Linked DNA regions of Homo sapiens: region 2 is linked to region 1. A link means that fine-mapping ties the variant in region 1 to the expression of a gene that starts in the linked region. Tissue or cell type: whole blood. Region 1 holds a variant in brackets; the other region holds the start of a gene. All regions are shown on one strand. Distances are from middle to middle.

The links. PIP is the estimated chance that this variant, and not a neighbour inherited with it, causes the effect.
Region 2: it holds the start of TASL, and the variant in region 1 is fine-mapped to the expression of TASL in whole blood (TOPMed, PIP above 0.99).

Annotation. Positions count from the first base shown.
Region 1 is chrX:30,612,464-30,615,315 of GRCh38, reverse strand. No RefSeq gene overlaps it. Among named protein-coding and RNA genes, the nearest start is that of TASL, 36 kb to the right of the region's middle. The variant G/A (reference allele first, on the strand shown) is at 1,344.
Region 2 is chrX:30,576,137-30,578,812 of GRCh38, reverse strand. It overlaps TASL (TLR adaptor interacting with endolysosomal SLC15A4), which reads left to right and starts at 1,047. Exons shown (of 3, transcript NM_025159.3): 1 at 1,047-1,175; 2 at 1,947-2,061. RefSeq lists an enhancer at 816-1,025.

The sequences.
Region 1 (2,852 bases):
TCCATTTAATATTTTTGGACCATGGTTGACTGCAGGTAACTAAAACCACAGAAAGCAAAACCATGGATAAGGGGTCACTATTGAAGTCAAGTAATATGTCCTCCTACAAATCAAGTAATATAAGTATTATAAGTCCTCCAACTTGTTTCCTACTTTTCAAAGATATTTGAGGCATTCTAGGTTCTTTGCATTTCTATATTAATTTTAGAATCATCCTGTTAAGCTTTAAAGACAATCATGCTGACATCTTATTGGGTTTGTTTCAAAGAGATGTCTTCACAATATTGAGTCTTTCAATCAATGAACATGGTATATTTCTGCATTTATTTAGGTCTTCTTTCATTTATCTCAGCAATGTTTTTTAGTTTTCAGTGTGTAGGTATCACATGCACTTTGTCAGGTTTATCCCTAACAAAGCATATATATATATGCTTGAGATAGGGTCTCACTCTATTGCCCAGGCTGGAGTGCAGTGGTGGGATCATGGCCCACCACAGCCTTAACCACCTGGGCTCAGGTGACCCTCCCATCTCAGCCTCCCAAGTACCTGGGACTACAGGTGCACACCGCCACACTAGGCTAATTTTTATTGGATTATTTTGTAGAGATAGGGTTTCGCCATGTTGCCCAAGCTGGTCTCGAACTCCTGGGCTCAAGTGATCTGCCTGCCTTGGCCTCCCAAAATGCTGGGATTACAGACATGATAGTATTTTATATTTTTGTTGTCACTGTAAATGATATTGTTATAATTTATAATTTAAATTTCCCATTTTCATTGCTAGTATATAGAAAACACAATTTATTTTTCATTCTTTATCTTGTATCCTACAACTTTGCTAAACTCATTTATTCTAGTATTTTTCTTGTAGATTTCACAGGACTTTCTGCATAGACAGGAATGTCATTTGTGAATAAAGACAGTTTTATTCTTCCCGTACAATATGAATGCCTTTCATTTTTGCCCTATTTCACTGGCTGCATCTTCCAGTATAATTTTGAATAGAATTGGTGAGAGTGGATCCTTGCCTTGTTCCTGATCTTAGGCAGAAAACATTCAGTCTTTCATCATTAATGAGGTTAACGGTAGGTTTTTTCATAAATGCCTTTTATTAGGTTGAGGAGGTTCCCTTCTATTCCTAGTCTGTTGAGTTTTATTGATTAAGTTTTGAATGCTAAACCAATCTTGCATTCCTGGGATGAACCCCACTTGTTCATGATGTATTTTCCATTTTATATATAATTGGATTCAATTGCCTGGGGCAATTATAGGGCTCACTTAGTTTGTTTCCTGTTTCTCAGCGATGATTGTCCATTGCCCAATGTCCAATGTCTTGAAAACTGCT[G/A]TTTTACAGTTTTGTCCCTGTAAATTTGGTCCCCGTTACTCCATCTTGACTAGAAGCAGAAGTTCAAATGTTGCATTATTAACGTGAACTCTGGAGAAACTGTGATAAAAAAAACTGTCTTTTCTGAATCATAAGCCAAAATGACGTGTATGTTTTCACACCAAATAGTGATAACAGAGACTCAGAAACGCAGCAAATAGAAATGGAAATCCAAGGCTCAAGAGGCATCTGTAAGTTTGAGAAAGTTTGCTATTTCATTTAAACAGCAAATTAAATATATTTTGTAAGGTTAGCAGAAACAGCTCTTTTTAAAATGATATTCATAATTTCTATTCTAAGAAAAGAAATCACTAGCGAGTGTGTATACACACACAGAGGAATGAGGAAGCAGTGAAATTAAAATTTTTTAAAAAACCAACCTTTACATCAATTGGCGTATCTCATGCAGAGAACCTTTAAATTGAACCTAGGCACTCCCAAAAAGAAAATCAATCAAGAGTGGTATCTTCTTATAGGTTAAAAAGACATTCAATATTCATAGAATTGCTTATCTGCAGAACTTTATTTATTTATTTTTTTGAGACAGAGTCTCGCTCTGTCACCCGGGCTGTAGCGCAGTGGTGCAATCTCCGCTCACTGCAGGCTCCGCCTCCCGGGTTCACGCCACTCTCACGCCTCAGCCTCCCGAGTAGCTGGGACTGCAGTGCCGGCCACCATGCCCGGCTAATTTTTTGTTTTTGTATTTTTAGTAGAGACAGGGTTTCACCGTGTTAGCCAGGATGGTCTCGATCTCCTGACTTCGTGATCTCCCCGCCTCGGCCTCCCAAAGTGCTGGGATTACAGGCGTGAGCCACCGCGCCCGGCCAAAACTTTAAAGATAAGTATACTCGTTATTAGTTATCCCACAAGTTCAGGAATACTTTGAGAATATATTCCAATTTTTGCAATTCTTATTTCTTATTAATTTACGAGGGGAAGTTAAACCTTTTTAGCAGAAGTGGTAGTTCCAGAAACATCTGGTGTTTATAAACAGCAGCTTGTGGGTGGAGACTATGTCTCCCTAATTTGTCAGCAGTTCAATGCTGCATTGATAGACAAATTGAAGTGGCCTAAAAGCTAGAACTTTGAGAATTATGTTAGCCTAGTTGAGCTTTGGATCCATTGTTCTGGAGTATTGATTTTCTTTTCCCAGGGATCTTAATTTAGTTTAGTTTTAGTTTTCAATAAATTATTTGTTCATTCATATAATGGTGCTTTGAGAGAGGATTTGATATAACGTTTCAGGATCTATTCAAAGGCTCAGACCGAGCAGGAACAAAACACTGCTACAAGGACTTCCTCTAGACACACCTCTTTTCATCTCTGCAGCAATTCACTTTTCACACTATGGACTGGACTCCCTTTGAGTAACCAATAAATCACAAAAGGTGTGTGTAAACTGTTTTTGCTTCAGTCATACTTGACTGTTTTATTAGGCATAGATCCAAGTGTAGGCTACAATCATGATTT
Region 2 (2,676 bases), 36 kb after region 1:
CGTTCTCATTTACTTGGCCAATATCTTATTTATGGATATAATTTTTTCTAGTCATTTATTTTCTCAAGCAATGCTGCAACAAATATCTTTTCACATAAGTCTTTGTGTACAAGTGTAAACATATAGCTTGGACAAATTTATAAAAAATACAATTGTTGGGTCAAAGGGTATGAATATTTGTATTTGAGAGATACTGGGAAATTGCCCTCTAAATATGTTTACAATCTCATCAGTAGTGTTTGAGAGTGCTTGTTTCTTCACAACTTTGCCCACACCATGTATTATTGTTTTGACCTTCGGTATTTGGAGAGGGAAAACTTTTTTCTTTTTTTTTTCTTTTGAGACGGAGTCTCGCCCTGTCGCCCAGGCTGGAGTGCAGTGGCGCGATCTCGGCTCACTGCAAGCTCCACTTCCCGGGTTCACGCCATTCTCCTGCCTCAGCCTCCCGAGTAGCTGGGACCACAGGCGCCCGCCACCGCGCCCGGCTAATTTTTTGTATTTTTAGGAGAGACGAGGTTTCGCCGTGTTTGCCAGGATGGTCTCGATTTCCTGACCTCCTGATCCACCTGCCTCGGCCTCCCAAAGTGCTGGGATTACAGGCGTGAGCCACTGCGCCCGGCCGAGAAAATTTTTTTCATTTACATTTTTAAAAATTATAAGTACCATTGAGAAATAATACTTCTTAAAAATTATAGATTAGTAACGAAACAGAATTTCCTAAAGTCATATGTGACTTTGGCTTTCTTTTGGGTGAAGGATCCCAGATAATGTACTTTTCTAGAAAGGAAATTTAATTCTGTTGCTAGGGTTCTTACAAAATGTGTAACCATAAACTATTTTAATAAGAGACAGTTTCGTAGATAGGTTTCATTTTTCGAAAAAGGGGAAGAAACACCATTCTGTGGCTTGATGTGGCTTTGTCAGTTACTGCCTCCCCACCTCCCGGGACTTCCCACTGCCTCTTTAGCACAAATCGGACTTGAACAAAAACAACTCTTTTTCCATGGGACCAATTATAAAAAGAATGGCTTTGCACTGAGCAGCTCAGTCTACTGGTCTCATCAGTGAAAGGCTTGTGAAAATTTCTGGAAAGAGCATTGGCTGGCTTGTTCATCTCTCTGTTTGGTCAGTTGCTGTGTTTCTGCCGGATCAGATGAGCAGATTGGTTAGTGAAGGTAAGAAAAAGAAAGCAAAGGACCCTAGAACTCCGCTATTATTTTTTGTCATCTGTCTTCTCACGCTTTCTTAGCCCTTTATCACGAGAGCGCTGATCCATTCTTATGACATCTAAAATGCTTTTCTAGCTTACCATATCAGAGACAAGTGGGAGTTTAAACAAGCATTCAGTGGAGTTGAAAAATAAAGAGAAATTAAGCCCAATACTTCCTTTCCTTACCTCCTCGTGTCCACATTCTAAGCATTTCTAAAACACTTATATTTTTACCTACAATTTTTGACTGATCTGAGCAAATATTTATTGTGTTATTTTTGCAGTCCTCTTTCACTAATTGCCACACTGGTTTAGCTTCTGCATTTTTAAAAGAAGGCCTAAAAACCTAAGCAGGGTTTTGCAGGGACAACACAGCTCTTGAATTCAGTTACGGTGATGCAGTTTTAGAGACGAAAACAATCACAGTCCTTTCCAATTGGATTTGACTCTCAATTATTCAGTTCAGCAAGCTTGTGATAGTGTTTTTCTGTGTGGCAGGATGTATTCAAAATGAATGCGATCTATAGTGAGGATGCTTTTCGACTTTCATCTGGGTGATTTGGGGAAAGCTTCCCTTTTGGTATTAAAGATAGCGCATGTACGAGTGGAGTTTTGTTTGAATTATCTTTAGACTCGCTCAAACATTCTTTGTCTTGCGCATATGAATCTGTGCTTAAATATAGACCTGGTTTGGACAGAATATTTATATTGATATTTTATAACATTTCTTGCATAGGTCAGTGTGAGAAGAAGATTGTTTCTGAGCTTGAGAAGCTTCTGGAGGATTGAAGAGTATTTGAAGTCTGTGTCAAACATCCATATCATAAGTGGAATTTTGGAGATATTCAAAGGTAGTACACTAATTCTATTATCTCAGAGCAAAATGATGTTTGAAGTATTTATATCAAGTCACTGAGACATTTCTCATCTCATATGTAGTGATTATTTTAGATATATAAGATATTGTCCCTCTAGGCTCTTAATAAACATTATACAATGTAAATATGCCTTCATTAACTAAATATGGTTTTTTCCCCCTCCCAATTTTTATTTAGAAATGTTTCAAATCTATATAAAAATTGAAAGAATAGTACAACGAACACCCATATTTTCATCATGTGTATTAATCAGTGGTATCTTTTTGCCACATTTACTTTCTCTCTCGCTTTGTCTTTCTCTGTCTCTGCCTGTCCTTTTCTCTCTCTCTATATGTGTATATATATATTCACACACACGCATGCACATATGCACAGTTTTTTCCCTGAATGGTTTGAAAGTATGTTGCTGACTTTAGGACACATGTCACCCCTAAATTCTTGAGCATGTATCTCCTAAAAATAAAGGCAGTCTTCTATAACACATTACAACACCACGGAAACATAACATCAACACAATACTATTATCTAAGATGTGATACACATTCAAATTTTCCTAATTATCCACATGTCCTTTAGAATCTTTTTATG